Linked DNA regions of Homo sapiens: region 2 is linked to region 1. Evidence: fine-mapped expression QTL. Tissue or cell type: platelets. Region 1 holds a variant in brackets; the other region holds the start of a gene. All regions are shown on one strand. Distances are between the middles of the regions.

Region 1 (8,099 bases):
ACGGCAGTCATGGGGGAGCACTCACATGGGAGCAGAGGGCCCGGTGAGGCTGCTCAGCCAAGGGTCTGGTGCAGGGAGAAGTGAAGATTAGGGCTCTTTGCAATCTGTCACAGGGAGTGAGCCAGGGCGTCACCCTGGGACTTCTGATGGTGATCATGTGCTCGTCACCCACCATCCGGGTGCTCCAGCTGGACCAGACCTAGGCCTGTCTTGAGGGAAAGACAGATCCTTGCCACGTCACTTACCACAACCGCAGCCAAGGCTGGTGGACTCCATAGCCGTAGGAAGGCAGCTTCAGGGACAGGGTGGGAGGCTAGAGGTCTCTTGTGTTCCGAAGGGCACAGACGTATGGGACAAACCAGGGAATGACCCAGCATCCCTCTTGGCCATGGTCCTGCCAGGAGACTTGGGTGCTGTCCTGCCCCCCTGGGCCTCTGTGGCCTCATCTGTACCATAGAGGCTGGACTTGGGATTTGAAAGGTACCACCCAGGGCTGTGGTTCAGTCTCTTTGTAGAGAGACAGAGTAAGGGTGAGAGTGAGCCATGGAGAGAAAGAGGGGACAGGCCTAGTCTCTGCCTCTAATTATTTGCCTCTTCCTCTTCTGCAAGCCCCCCTCAGTGGAGGTGGGGGGTGGAGCGTGCAGGGATTGAGGGTTGGGGGATGGGTATGTGATGTGAACCCTTTTCCATGATTCTAATGGCCTCACCCTAAGAGCCTGGGAGCTGGTCTGCAGGGTAATTCTGTGGGCAGAAGGGTTGGGGTGGGAGTAGGGGGTCCCTTGGAAGCAGGGCTCTGTAGCCTTGTCTCCCTTCCCTTCCTAGGGGGTGGCTGTTCCTGGGAGGGGCGGGTGGTTTTATTTGGGACAGGAGCCTGTTGCAGTTAAGCAGTTCAAGATGCTGGAGATGGAGTTACCCGGATGACTGTGGAAAATCCATGCTGAGTTATTTTTCAGGAGCACAGTGATGGGGGCACAGACTACTCTGCCTGGCAGGCAGAAGTAGCAGGGATGTTTTCAAACTTTAATTAAGTCCCTACTGTGTGCCAGATATTAAGCTTAGTGTGTTTTCACATGTTAATCCTGCAGTAGGGATCTCTGTGCCCTTTGCAGAGCTGTGGAATGAAGGCTCTTTGAGGGGAGCATGTGTCCAAAGTCCAACCAGGAGGTGGAGAGGTAGAATAGCATGTCTACCCACCCACCCTTCAGGCCATTCCTCCACCCATCCACTTACCCACCCACCCACCAGTTCATCCATCCGCCCATGCACCCACACACCCACCAGTCCATCCATCCATCCATCCATCCATCCGTCCATCCATCCATCCATCCATCTATCCACCCACCCACCAACCTGTCCATGCATCCATCCATCCATCCATCCATCCATCCATCCATCCATCCATCCATTTGTCTTTGCATCCACCTGTCCATCCATCCATCCATCCATCCATCCATCCATCCATCCATCCATCTATTCATCCATCTTTGCATCCACCCACCGGTCCATCCATCCATCCATTCATCCATCCATTTGTCTTTGCATCCACCTGTCCATTCATCCAACCATCCATCCATCCATCCATCCATCCATCCATCCATCCATCCATCCATCTTTGCATCCACCCACCAGTACATCCATCCATCCATTCATCCATCCATTTGTCTTTGCGTCCACCTGTCCATCCATCCATCCATCCATCCATCCATCCATCCATCCATCCATCTTTGCATCCACCCACCGGTCCATCCATCCATCCATTTGGCATCTGCAGCACTTTCACTTTTCTGATGACCCAGACTAGAGCCTATTCTGTGGGCTATTGGTCTGGGAGGTGAGTGCTGGAATGACTGGCTGGCTTGGATGCTGGCCCCAGAGCACTGACTGAGGGTCCGGGAGGAGGTGGGGCTGTAACCCATAGAAGACTGTGTGGCTGTCCTTATAAACCCGTGCACAGCCTGGTCCTGATTCTCTCCCCTGTGGCCAGCAGCACAGGATGATGATACTGGGGGCTTCTGCAGGGACTTGCTTCCTACAGGTAGTTTTATGACCCGTACAGCAATCACTCTGCTGGAGTTTCAGTGTGATGCATTTGGGGATGTAGAGGGTTCTGTGGGTTCGCACTGGGGGTGGGGTGGGGGGCGGCAGAATAGCCTCATGACCACCTGCAGTGGGGCTCCCTGAGGCCACCATGGACATCCTGGCCCTGGGTCCCCTGGTGTCCTCGGTGGCTGGGCCGGAGTGCTGTGAGCCAAGCTGGAGCAGCGTGTGGGACCCTAGCACGGGCACGGACCCAGTCTCTAGTGACAACCTCCCTCGCCTCACAAACCAAATCTCTCCCACGGTGCTGTCGCCTCAGGTCCTCTAGTGATTCCTGTTGCCCTGGAGATAAAATCCCGGCATCTCAGGGTGGCCAGGAGCTTTCTCAGGGAGACCTGCTGGGAGGCCAGGAGCATGGAAGTCCCTCAGGAGGGAAGGGACGTGGCGCATTTGAGGGAGAATCTCTTGGAGAGCCCTGGAGAACTTACCCTGAAGGACGAGGAGGCTGCCGCTTGCTGGGACATGTCCCACGTGGATGGGAAAGGCTGCAGTCCCAGGGTCTGGGCACCACGCTTAGGCAGATGGGGCCTGTGTCATCCCCCAGGCAGGTGCCGGGCGCTCGGGGCTGTCCCCGGAGATGCAGTCTTGGGGGCGATGGACTCGCTGTGCCTGAGCTCCAGCTCTGTCCGTTCCTTTCGGAACATGGAGGCCGGGAGTCCCTCCTCGGGGACGCTGTGGGGGTCTGGGGAGTGGGTCCTGAGTAGGTTGGCCTTGATGGGCCTTCCAGGCCTGTGGGATCCACGGGTTCACAATTTTGGAACATAGGTTCTAGGAGACCCAGGAACTGCTTCCCGAGAACCGAGGCCTCCTGGGGGTCCCTACTGGGGGTGAGTACAGTGGGGACCTGGAGGAGCTGAGGGCAGCCTGGGGGAAGGGACTGGAACCCTGAGAGGGATTAGTCCAGCTGCAGGAAGCTGTGGTCAGGAGATGCAAGCACTGGGTGGAGAGGCCAGGACAGGTGGGGTGCTGCCCAGGCCCCAGGCTGGAGCGCATTTTGAAAGAGGAAGGGCAGGGAGGCATCTGGGCAAGTGTAAGGGGAGTGCACTGGGAGAGAGGGCCTGAAGGAAGGATGATGGTGTATGCGGACACCAAGCCACCACCTCCCCTCCCCCATCCTTTCCTCCCCTCCCTTCCCTCTCTTCTCTTTCTCTCCCTGCTTCTTCCTTCTTTCTTCCCTTTCCTCCCCCCGCCTCCTCTTCCCTCTCCAGCTCCTTCCTTGCCTTTTCCTCCCTTCCCTTCCCTCCGCCCTCCCCCGTCTCTTCCTCCCTTCCCTCTTCCCCTTCTATCTCATCCACTTGTGCCCCTTCCCACCTGCCCCTCCCAGCCTCTTTCCTTCCTTCCCCACGTGGCAAGCAGCCCCTGCACCCACCAGCCCGTGCTCCCCAGGGCCTGGCTCCGCACGCATTAGGAGATGCTCACAGAGAGGGCTGGGCTCCTTACAGCAAGAGACTTCTGCGACCGCGACCATTGGAGCCCAGCTGTCATGGGGAGGGTGGCAGTCTGGTGGAGACCACGGACCCTCCCCTGGACACCTCCACCAGGCAGGCTCAGTGACTGCCCTGCTACTGGGAGCCACAAAGCCTGTTGCCAGGAACCAGGCAGGGATAGCAAGTGGGGTCTTCTGAGGCCAGGGCGGGTGGTCCTGGGTTGGGGGGCCAGGGTGTGCTCTGAGCTCTTGAAGTGCCCCCACTGCTCCTTGTCCTGGGTGAATAAGGGTCTCCGAGACCTGGCCCCTACAGGCAGCATCCCCACCCCCCACCCGGCCGGTGCTGGCCTTGGAGGGATTCCGGGGGCACCTCTGTCCTCAAGAAGGGCTCTTTGGAGAGGAAAAAAGAACACATTTCAACACCTCCAGATTCTGAAAATGGATTTCTCCCAGGGAAACAGAGACTCAGAGCATGTTCTTTTCCCTGAGAGGGAGCCAGGAAAACAGCGATGGTGGGGGGGGGG[A/GA]GGAGGGGTAGGAGGGGAGAGAAAGGCCTCAGCAAGAATCACCGAGAATCAGGACACGGAGTCAGAAGGACCTGGACTCAAGTCCTGCCGGCCACCGATGGGCCGCGGACCCACGCGTGCGACTTCACCTCTTGGAGCCTCAGTTTGTTTTTCTGTCCAATGGGGTAACTCCATCTCTGTCCCTGTCTTGTAAGGGATGGCTGTGGATGGGATGTGGATAGAGCAGTTCTTGTTCCAGAGACCAGGACGATAATGTCAGAGTGTTTCTGAATGACACCCCCGGCCCCAGGAAGGGTCAAATAGTGCTGGGTACACTGGTTCTGACTGCCGGACCCAAATCCTTGCTGTGTGGCCTCAGTGAAGTGGCCGACCCTCTCTGGGCTCCAGCTTCTTCTTCCATTAATTGGGCAAGGATCTGCACCTTGTGACGTCACTGGGAAGATTCACTGGGATGGGGATGTGGTGCCAGGTGCAGCCTGTGCTCCGTGAGGTGCTCACATTGGCTGGGGTAGGGGTATCTCGAGGCAGCGGTGGGGCCTGTCTGTCCCTGGGCATGGCCTGGCTTTGGCTGGTCCCTCCTTCTGTGGCTGGTCCCCTCCAGGGCAAACCCTCCCCGCAGCCCCACTCCCTGGGCTCTAAACAGCTCTTGCTTTGGCTGGGACAGCTTCGGGCTGCCTCCTCCAGGAAGTCTTCCCTGACTGCCTGCTTGGGATGGAAGGGCTCCTTGGCTCTGGCCTGATCCCCTCCATGCTGTCTCCCTGGGAACTTTGCAGCTGCCTCCTCTTGGGTTTCTACATCTCTGATCTCATCTCCTCCTCTCTGTCTTCTAGATGTCTTCATGTTTTAGAGTCGCTCTCTGCTTGCGGGGCTGCCCTACCATGGAACGGACTGCAGCTTTTGAAAAACATCCAGACTGCTTGGCCTGGCCTTCAGGGCTTCCAGATGGGGTCTCTGCTTCCCTTTTCAGCTCCAGCCCCTGTCCCTGCTTGACACTGAACTGACACCCCCGCCGCCCAGGGAAATGTTGCCACAGCTGCCCTGCCACATGCCTGCCCCCCCCAGCAGGCCTGCAAGGGGACGTACTGAGGACCCCCAGCCGTTTAGTGAGGAAGCCACCTGAGGCTCAGGAAACCCGTGCACGGCTGTGTGGGCTGTGCATCAGCACTCGAACTCGGGTCTCCTGGCTCAAAGTTCAGGCTCTCTCACTGAGCTAGAATTTCCCACCCATACAAGTTGGCTACTTGCACCTTCTCTTGGAGCTCCCTTTCATCTCAACTTCCCAAGCCCTACCTGTCCTTCGAGGCTTAGCCGAAATGTCGGACCTCCCAGGAAGCCTCCTCCGATTCCTCATCCAATCACCTCTCTCCCCGCCAGATGGCAGTTACCTTTTCCCCATGACCTTGGCTCACCATGGTCCTGGCAAAGGGGTGAAGACTGTGTCCCAGTGGCAGAGATTGCTGGCTGCCCCCAGTATCCGTTTTCCTCTTCTTTCTAAAGTAAAAGAAATCCCAGCTTTGAGCTGGACACGTGGCTGCTCATGTAAAGATTCAAGTTCTTAGCCTCCCTTGCAGCTACACGTAGTTATCTGACCAAATCCTTGCCAATGACGCAGAAGAAGTGACCTGTGAAACTTCGGGTTCCTGACCTTAGGGGGAAGAGAGGTGCCTTCCCCCGCTTCTTCTCCCTGTTCCCACAGTTGGATTAATGAGGTGATGGCAGGAGTGGGGCAGCCGTGGGATTATGGAAGGGAAGCTGGGTGTTGAGGATCACAGAGCAACAAGCTGCAAAAAGCCTGTGTGCCCGTGTCACCACCACGCTAGCTTTAGACTGCTGAAGCTCAGCCTGCTATGCGGGGGGCGGGCGGGGTGGGGGTGGGGGGGCGCTGTCCTGTTTAATCCTGTTATTTTGGCATTTCTTACAGTAGCCAAAATGTATCCTAGTTAAAATAGATCCAGATAGAGAAGTTGATCAGCTGTTTGCAGAATGATCAAGTGGTTACTAACCAGAGGTTGGCGAGCCGCGGCGTGGAGACTGCTTTTTAGGGCCTGTGGTGCTCTGGAGTCACAGAGGGATGTGTCTGTGTGTTTGAGTGCTGGGCGTGCCACGTAACTGTGGGATGCTGGGGAAGTCAGTAATGGCTCAGTGGCCCTGATGCCTCTTCTGTGACATGGGGGTGACAGTCCTCCTTGCAGAATGAGGCTCGGATGACATCACACACATAAGGGCATGGCGACAGAGGCACTCTTGCACGTTGGTTCCTCTCCAGATTGAATTCTCCGGGTGAAATGGCTTTACTGGGAGCACCCCTCTTCCTCCACCCTCCTCTTCCTTGCAATCCCCAGCTTTCCCCGGAGTGGGGTGGGGTGGAGGGGGTGGACTTAATGAAACCAAATGGAAACATTCCATTTGTAACAACAAATATTTTCCACCAGGACTTTTCTTACACTTAAATGAACGACCTTGGAATCCCTGGAAATGGCTGTAGAGGAGGAGGCGGGGTTTCCCTTCTAGGAGTTTTGAATTTTGCAGAAAGATGGGCCCCTAGAGGCTGCCCATGTGCTCCCTTAGCCCCGGCTGCCCCTTCAGGTGAGTCCCACCTACTGCCCCATCTGCCTCATCTCCCCTGTACCCATACCTCTTGGCTCTGTGGGCCAGACCTCATCCCTCGGAAACCTCCAGGGGAGAACAAAGGGCTCCTCCAACTCTGGCCAGGAAAGTCAGGAAAGGATGCATCTGTCTACCTTTGGAGCCCTCGATTCAAAGACCCACCTGCCTGGAAGGGGCTGGAGAGGTGTGGAGATGGGAGTTCCAAGTGCCAAGGGTCACCCGGTGCGGAGGTAAGAGTGAGGGGCTGAGAAGGTGGGCTCTGAGGTCCCATCCTGATATGGTTTGGATGTGTGTTCCCTCCAAATCTCATGCTGAAATGTGATTCCCCAGTGTTGGAGGCGGGGCCTGGTGGGAGGTGTTTGGGTCATGGGGGTGGATCCCGCACGAAAGGCTTGGCGTCCTCTCCACGGTCATAAGTGAGTTCCCACCCTATCAGTTCGTGGCAGACCTAGTTGTTTAAAAGAGCCGGGCGTCCCCTCCTCCTCTCTTGCTCCCTCTCTCACCGTGTGGTGTGCCTGCTCCCCACTCTGCCTTCCACCACGAGTAAAAACCTCCTGAGGCCTCCCCAGAAGCCAAGCAGATGCTGGGGCCAGGCTTGTACAGCCTGCAGAACCATGAGCCAAATAAACCTCTTTTCTTGATAAATTACCCAGCCTCAGTATTTCTTCATAGCAACACAAAACGAACTAACACACCCCCACTCCAAATTGGGCAGCCCTGCTTTCTCCTGCTTTGGGAATGGGGTTCCCTTCAGCTTCGGTGTAATACAGTGATCAACTGATAGTTCCTTGACTGTACAAAATTAGTTTGAGTGGACAGTGCAGTTCAAAGCCACTACCTTTTTAAAATTTTTAATTGTGGTAAAATACATGTAACATAAAATTTACCGTCTTATCCATTTTTTAAGATAAAAACAATGAGCACTATGTTGCCCAGGCTGGGCTTGAACTCCTGGGCTCAAAGATCCTTCTGCCTCAGCCTCCTGAGTAGCTGGGGTGACCAGATTATGCATTGAGCCTGGCTACTGTCTTAGCCATTTTTAAGTAGCAGCTCAGTAGTGCTAAGGGTATTCACATTATTGGATAACCAATCTCCAGAACTCTTTCCATTGTACAAAACTGAAGGACTGAAACATTGAACACCAGCTCTCCCTTCTGCCCTTCCCCCAGCCCCCGGCGAGCACCGTTCCGTTTCCTGTCTCTATGAGTCTGACTACGTCAGGTGCTTCTCATCAGTGGGATCTTGCAGGATTGGTCCTTTAGTAACTCGCCTGTTTCACTTCGCTTGATGTCCTCAAGGTTCAACCGTGTTGCAGCATGTCTCAGAATGTCCTTCCTTTTCAGGCCTGAATAATATTCCATTTTATGGATTTACCACATTTTGTTGATCTGTTCACCTGTTGGGGACACTCGGGTCGCTTCCACCTTTTGGCTGTTGTGAACGAT
Region 2 (8,099 bases), 810 kb before region 1:
GACAGAGTGATATTTCATCTCAAAAATAAATAAATAAATAAAAATATAATGAATAATGCTTCCTTAGTCATGACTATTTCAGTTAAAAAAATACAAAACACCACCCTATGGCATCCTTCAAGTTACGATGCTTCCTTTCCCCACTAGCCCTGTCAATCTCATAACCCTGGAAGGTGGCAGCTAGCCTTCACTGCTGACTACTAACACCCAACTGCCACCCAGATGGATGATTTCTCAAACTGGAGCTAGGACTAATATAGAGTCTAAGTCATCCACTTCGCTGTACAATAACCATGTTATCAGAGTGCTCTGGGTACACTAATGGTTTCAGGATTCTCTCCAAAATCCCTAGGAAGCAACAATTTGTATCCCTATTGTAGAATCTATGTTTGAAATCTGGCTACGACATCTATTAATTATTTGAGTATTAAATTATTAAGGAGGAACGTAATGAGACTGAGGCAGTCATTTATCTTCCAGACAAAATTTTGTCACTTCCTTGCTCCCATCCCCATTGGCTACCCAATGGTCACAAGCTAAAGCCTAACACAAGCATGGAAATTAGACACTATGACAAAACAGTCTATATCTAACTTCATCTCAGGCCACTCTTCCATCCACACACTGTGCACTCCCTACCCTTTAGCAATCACCCCTCTACACGCTTCTTCTCTCAGCCCTGGGCAACCACTGATCTCCTCTCTGTCTACAGTTCGCCTATTCTGGAGATTTCATCAAAATTGAATCATATAATATGTGGTATTTTGTGTCTGGTTGCTTTCACTTAGCCTAATGTTCTCAAGGTTCCTCCATGTTGTAGCACAAATCAGTACTTCGTTCCTTTTTATTGCTGAACAGCCTTCCATTGTGTAGACAGGCCACGTTTTGTTTGTGCATCCATCAGCTTTCCATCACAGTCCCTGCACACACCATAACCTGTATGTCTCTGCAGAACAAAGTCCCTTTCCACTCTTCCCTATTCCCCCACATGTGCCCTGTAAGAACTAGTCCTCCGCCACCAGGAAGCCTTCATAAATTCCCTCAGATACTTGGTTGGTCTTTCTCTGCTTTCACAGAACTCCATGATGGCAGTTATCGCACAGCACCATCATTATCTGTTTTCTCTCCCCTTCAATGGACTCTTTCTCATCTTCACCTATGTTCTTCTAGTCTGTATACTTTGTGGTGCTTTAAAAGACCAATAAAGAGTATGGTACAATCAATGCTCAATACACGTTTGTTGAATGAATCTCTCTCTCAAAGCACTGTGCTAGATTCACCCAAGTATGACAGCCCTAAATATAAAATAGTGGCAAAAAGTCAATAGAACTCTTATGTCCAGGTCCAAAGAATACATTCATTTTAAATTGAACATGCATCTTGAGTAACAGCTCCCTTCTACCTTAGCAATTCGCAAAGCCATCAACTACTCCCTTCTAATTTTACTGATCTCTCTGTGCATTACTGAATCTAGAAATCTCTTCGTGCTTGACACCAAAGCTTTTCATTATAACCCTTTCCTGATCTATTCCTCATCTTCCCAAGTTCAATCAACTGCCTCTGCCTGATGCCTGTTTCCTTCCTTTTCTTCCCACTAAGTTCCAGTAGCCATTTTTTTCAACTCCTACAGCGGCTAATATGAAATGAAATTCTCCCCAAACTTAAGTGTAACTTCTTTAAGAAAAAATTGGAAAAAAAAATCCAGTAGATGCCAGTCTTCTATTGAAAAAGACACGTGGGTATAATATAGCTGATGCCTAACAAAAGCTACTTCCTAGTCACTCCTTCAGAAGAGGGTTATCCTCATTCCATCTTCCCCACCACTGGTTTTCCAAGGCAGTCCTGAAAATTCAATTTGTGTGTCCCCTACACCTGCACTTAGTTCTCCCTTTTAAAGTTCATGGGCCAGACCATGATCTTTCTGAGGCAGTGACCTCAGGAAGGGTCTGTCTGGTTCACCACAGCATCCCTAGAGCCAGCCTGGCACAGTGCTGGCACACGATGGCCAAATAACCACCAATATGGGACGTAAGTCAGGTTAACAACAACAACAACAAAAATAAGGTCAGAGGTTTATCAAGGTACATTATAGCTGGGTGTGAGAAAACACAAAGTCCTGCAGCCTAAAAGACCAGGAATCGCTGGTGATCACAAGGAGCTACAGTGGCTTCATTCCCAGATTCTACCTATGCCTGGGATTTGCGTTTTGAGATTTCCCAGAACTCTGTCTACAAGACCTTGGCTGCAAGGAGGCAGTCCACAAGTGCAACTGGTCACTCCAATAGATGAGAAAAGGATGCACCCAGGCTGGTATCCCACATTCTGCCAACACATGGAACATAAGTCACAGAACAGAATAAAATTCCTGAATCCCAATAAGAGAGGAAGAAAAAAGTGCAGGGAAGAGAAATGGAGGTAGAGAAGGAGAAACTAAAGTCATGAGAAGTCAGAGACATATCAGAAGGGACTAGAGGGCGAGAACGCAGGCTAGCACAGATGACAGCAGGGGCTCCCCTTTACTGAAATGTACAGCGGCAGGCACCGTGCTTAACTTTACATGCACTGACCCATTTAATCCTCTTACCAAGCCAGAGGTAGAAACTATTCTCATCTCCATTCCACTGGTGATGAAACTGGAGCGGAGTGAGGTAGGGCACTTGCCCCAGCACAGAGCTAGGAAGGGGCCGCTGGGACCTGCCCGGCTCTGACTCCAGGACACCCCATCCTTTAACACTTACTACCTATTCTGCCTCCCATGCCTTCAAATAGGATTGGGAAAGGAGTCATTCACTTATCCACTCATCGAACACTGAACACCAACTGGATGAGTGTCAAGGCCTGGGGCCAGGCGCCGGTGGGCGGATGTAAGGGACGCGGGCTGCGAGTGGGGGACAGAACACGACGTCAATCTTAAGGCGAAGGAGCAGAGCCCGCGGCCAGACCGGCAGCCGGGATGCAGGGTGGGGCCGGGGGCCGAGGGCGCGGGACGCGCAGCGGAGGCCTGAGGAGGGGCGGGCGGCCCCTGTTCCCCGCTGCGGACCGCCGGATTCTGCGGGCGGCGAGCCAGGCGCTCCGTGTGTTGTGGCATTTAGTGTCCGCCACTCCGCGCGGGCGAGACCGCGGGCGAGGGAGACGGGGCGGACGGGCATGGAGACCCTGCGGGGCTGAGGCAAGGGAAGAGTGGCCCGGGGGAGGCCGAGGAGGGGCTCGGGGCCAGGCGTCGGGGGCGTCGGGGGCGTCGGGGCCGCTTGCGGCGTCGCCGGACTCACCTCCCGCGGCAGCCCCTCCGGACTCGTCGGCCCCGCCGGGCCGGAGGAGGCGGGATGGACTCCGGGCCGCGGGGGCTGCCGGGAGCCTGTTCCCTGGGCAACGGGGCCGGCACCGGGGCCAGCACCGAAGAGCAGCAGCTGGCTCCGCCGGGGGCTAGAGCGGCAGAGCCACAAGTGGCAGCGGGCGGGGCGGACGTGACGCAAATGCGTTTCCGGTGGGGTGGGCGGGGCTTCGCGTCTCCTTCTACGGATATCTGTGGACCTTATGGAAGGTGCGTGAGATCGGTTCCTTTCCCGGGGTGGGGTGGCTGTGAATGTTACTGCTTAGGCCGCAGGTTGGACCAGAAGCTCAGGAGCTCCCCGGATTACATGAGGTTAAATGGAGGTCCTCTGTCTTACCCCAGCCTAGCCCGCAGGCCCCTCGCAGCCTCTGCGAGCTGCTCGGGAGACAGTTTTGCCGAGCCTCCGTTTTTTCACATGTGCAGTGACAGATGAACGGGACGATATACGCAAATGAGTGTCAGCAGATCCGACATCCAAATTGTAATTATTGTCACTATAAATTAGTACTAACAGAGTTCACTGGGTACCAAGCCTTGCATGCTCATCTCGTCCAGAAACTCCTCTCTGAACTGCCCTCAGTCAGAACATTCTGCTTGTAATGAAAGCTGGCTTTCGCCTAGTGCTCAGTTTGCTGAGTACTGCTCCAAGCACTTTAAGTGGATCATCTCATTTGAACCTCACAGTGGTCCCATGAAGTAATGTCAACCCCATTTTGCAGATGGGGAATCGAGGCTCAGAGGGGATAAGTAACTTAGCCACTGTGCCCTCACCCTACCCTGTCCTGTGACGCTGATGACTGGTCTGTCTTTACCAGCCCTTGAGTTTCTTGAAGTCAGTTATGTTTTTGGTTCCTAAATATGTGCCCCGTATGAGTCAGGCTGACCATGAATCAGATGTGATCCTGCCCTCAGAATCTCCTGTTGGGGGGAAAACCCTTAGACAATTATAGAACAGGTGGTAAGAGCTATTCCTCCATTTACCTCATTTTATGCAAAGCCTCCTATGTGTGGAAGGTTTGAAAGAGAACGAGACATAGTTCCTACCCTAGTCGAATTTCCAGTTTAGCAGGGAATATAGACATTAAACAAGCAAATACACTCCACTGGTGAATATCATGATAGCAGAATTATAGGGTGTACCACATATCTAGTGGTGAGTCGTAACCCAACCTGGGGGATCCAGGAATACTTCTCTGTGGAAATGACTTTCTAAAAACCTAAATCAGATAATTTCACTGCCCTATCCAGAGCTCATTGCTCACTCCCCATTGTATTAGGTTGGTGCAAAAGTAATGGCAATTTTGGCTGTTAAAAGTAATGGCAAAATCTGTTACTTTTGCACCAAGCTAATACTTAGAAGTCCAAACTTCATTTTTTTATTTTGTTTTGTTTTGTTTTGTTTTGTTTTGTTTTTGAGACGGAGTCTCGCTCTGTCACCCAGGCTGGAGTGCAGTGGCGCGATCTGGGCTCACTGCAAGTTCCGCCTCCCGGGTTCACGCCATTCTCCTGCCTCAGCCTCCTGAGTAGCTGGGACTACAGGCGCCCGCCACCACGCCCGGCTGATTTTTTGTATTTTTTTAGTAGAGATGAGGTTTCACTGTGTTAGCCAGGATGGTCTCGATCTCCTGACCTCGTGATCCGCCCGCCTTGGCCTCCTGAAGTGCTGGGATTACAGGCGTGAGCCACTGCCCTCGGTCCAACTTCTTATCTTGGCCTATTAGGTTCTAGTTGTCTGATCACCTACTCACGCACTAGTCCTTTTCTGTCTATTTCATTCCAGCACACTGGTTTTTTTGTTTGCTTGTTTGTTTTGTTTTGTTTTCTGTTTTTTGAACTCACCAACCTCATTATCATAATTAGGGCACATACTACTGACCTACCCTATTTCTGGCTTTTCATCATTCAAATCTCAGCCTAAACGACACCTTCTCAGGGGATCACACTAACACAAGACCCTGTTTTATTTTCCACACACACTTAATCATGATCTGAACTGATCGTGGTCATTTGTTTATTATCTGCCTCCCCTTTGGAAAGTAAGTTCCATGAAAACGGTCCTGGTCCGTCTCATTCAATCACTTCATTCCCCCATGCCTGGCGTATTGTAGGCAGTAAGCAAATATTTGTTGTTTAAGTAAAGAATGAATGATAAATCAAGATGATATTTTAAAGTGAGGATACTAAGTATGAGGCAGGGGAGTGGGGACACACACAGATAGGAAAAATATTCCAGGTCAAAGTCAGAACTTGTACAGAGCCAGCTCTGATGCACAGAGGGCAAGTGGGAAAGGGTAGAAGCTGAAGTGGTGGGCAGAGCTTGGATAGTAGAGGCCCTTGAGCTAACAGGTGAGATACTGGGTTTTTGCCTTGTGCGAGGCCTCACAGCTTCACATATATTATCTAATCTCAGCAATCCTATGAAATAGATACTATTTTTATTCCCATTTTACAGATGAAAATGTTGAGGCTCTGAAAGGTACATTAAGTTGCCCAAGATCTCACAGCTGGCGAGCTGGGGTTCAGACGCAGGCAGTGTGGTCTTCTGACTTGAGGCATCAAACCATCCAGCTGTTGTGTGTCCTGGATTCCTCAAGAGGACTTTATCCTGTGGGCAGTGAGAAGCCTTTGTGGGGTTCAAAGTAGAGAAGGCAAGAGGGCACAGGAGGGTTCGGGGAGAACAAACAACCTGAGTTGGCTCTTGGTGGTCTGGGGGTTGCTTCCTACAGGCAGTGGGATCCGGGTGCATCTTGGAGGATGGGCATCGTGAGCCTGAGGAAGGAAGGAGCTTTCCTGCAGAGAGAACACGTGTAAAGGCCTGCAGGCACCTCAGCTTTTCAAGAGCTGCCAGTAGTTCATTTTCGCTGGATATTGACGGGGGGCCAAGGTGTGGGTTGATGTACGTGATGATGTGGAGGGGTAGCTAGGTCTGGAAGGATTTTGGACTTCCTCCTGATTACCAAGAAGGGCAGTGGCAGCATCGTGATCAACTCTGCATCTCTGTTGTCTCAGTGTCTTGAAATGATTAGCACTCATGGGCCACGCTACTCTGAGCAAATTTAAAGTATCAGAGTGCCTGAGACTAGATAGTGGAAGTACTCGGGAGTCAGGGCTAGATTATCCTGTAGGGAAGGGAACGTGAGCCATTGAAGAGTTTTAGCAGACAGTCACAACTTTACCTTATTTCCAATCTTTGGAAAACAAAGGGCTTAAGGTAAAAACTTTGTGGAGCCATTAAGCTGGAAGAGGATTCAGCTCTATCTGGTGAATTTTAAAATGTTAAAAATATTCTATATTGTCTTCTTCCAGGAACTTTCACATTCATTCAGACTTTGTAGTTTCCACATTTATTTGTCCAGTTGATACAGCATTTCAGATAGTTTTACTGTTGAAAATTATAAGGACATTTGCCCTCCAACTATGATTGTATATTCCATGATAATAATTTTGTTTCTTTTATACCCTATCAGCAAAGACTCTTGGAACTGTAACGCCCAGAAAACCTGTCTTATCTGTCAGTGCAAGAAAAATTAAGGACAATGCGGCTGATTGGCACAATTTAATCCTGAAGTGGGAAACCCTCAATGATGCAGGTTTTACCACTGCAAATAATATTGCCAACTTGAAAATCAGTTTATTGTAAGTACATATTGGTTTTTCATGCTCTAAGTTTTTCACCCTTAATAACTGGGGAAATAATGTGAATAAATTTTAAAATAAAATATTAAGCAAAAAAAGCAAGTGGTAAGATGATACGTGTAAGTATAAATTGTATTGTACATTTTAAATACAAAATTATATTCCATATATATATATATATATATATATATTTAGTTATTTATTTATTTATTTTTTTGGAGATGAAGTCTCACTCTGTTGCCTAGGCTGGAGTGTGATGGCGCGATCTCAGCTCACTGCAACCTCTACCGCCTGGGTTCAAGCAATTCTCCTACCTCAGCCTCCGGAGTAGCTGGGATTACAGGCGCCCGTCACCACACCCAGATAATTTTTGTATTTTTAGTAGAGACGGGCTTTCACCATGTTAGGCTGGTCTCGAACTCCTGACCTTACGTGATCCACCTGCCTCAGCCTCCCAAAGTGCTGTGTGAGCCACCGTGCCTGGCTATTCTGATTTTTAAAACCACAGATTCTTTGATTCTTTTGTAGTTCATAGGCATAATGATTGGGTTTTCATGCTCATGTATGACCTGTGCCTTCCTCAAACTTTGCTATGATGTTGGCACATTACCTAGCTGATATGGAAAAAACTACCATGAATTCTTTTCATCCATTTTTGGATTTTACGTAAACAAAAAACATATGTTATTGTTTCCTTTATATCTCACTTTCTTTTTCTATTTTTTATTTTTTATTTTTGGAGACGAGTCTCACTCTATCCCCCAGGCTGGAGTGCAATGGCGTGATCTTGGCTCACTCTAACTTCTGCCTGTCAGGTTCAAGTGGTTCTCCTGTCTCAGCCTCCTGAGTAGCTAGAATTACAGATACCTGCCACCATGCCCGGCTAATTTTTGTATGTTTAGTAGAGACAGAGTTTCACCATGTTGGCCAGGCTAGTCTCAAACTCCTGACCTCAAGTGATCTGCCCACCTTGGCCTCCCTAAATGCCGGTATTACAGGCATGAGCCACTGCGCCCAGCCATGTCTCACTGTCTTTCAACATGGAAGCCATGCGTGTAATGTAGAGCCACTATTCTGGTTCTGTTCTTTCTCATTGCTGTTTAATAGTGTTTACCCACATTAGACCTCTCAC

Alleles and levels. Alleles are on the strand shown, and positions count from the first base shown. SD is a standard deviation of normalised expression in the study named.
In carriers of allele GA in region 1, the expression in platelets of the gene that starts at base 3,445 in region 2 tends to be higher than with A alone (large effect, 1.7 SD a copy in CEDAR).

The links. PIP is the estimated chance that this variant, and not a neighbour inherited with it, causes the effect.
Region 2: TECPR2 starts here. The variant in region 1 is fine-mapped to the expression of TECPR2 in platelets (CEDAR, PIP 0.95).

The regions. Positions count from the first base shown.
Region 1 is chr14:101,543,899-101,551,997 of GRCh38, reverse strand. LOC105370673 (a long non-coding RNA gene) reads left to right here and starts at 6,332. Exons shown (of 7, transcript XR_944222.2): 1 at 6,332-6,884; 2 at 7,998-8,099. It overlaps LOC105370674 (a long non-coding RNA gene), which reads right to left and starts at 6,136. Exons shown (of 3, transcript XR_944224.1): 1 at 6,051-6,136; 2 at 5,338-5,538; 3 at 4,034-4,920. The variant A/GA (reference allele first, on the strand shown) is at 4,048.
Region 2 is chr14:102,358,287-102,366,385 of GRCh38, reverse strand. It overlaps TECPR2 (tectonin beta-propeller repeat containing 2), which reads right to left and starts at 3,445. Exons shown (of 20, transcript NM_014844.5): 1 at 3,270-3,445. It overlaps CINP (cyclin dependent kinase 2 interacting protein), which reads left to right and starts at 3,496. Exons shown (of 5, transcript NM_032630.3): 1 at 3,496-3,541; 2 at 6,799-6,967. The coding sequence starts at 3,535. It overlaps LOC124903427 (small nucleolar RNA U13), which reads left to right and starts at 7,484; the gene lies at 7,484-7,587. RefSeq lists silencers at 2,912-3,001, 3,042-3,451.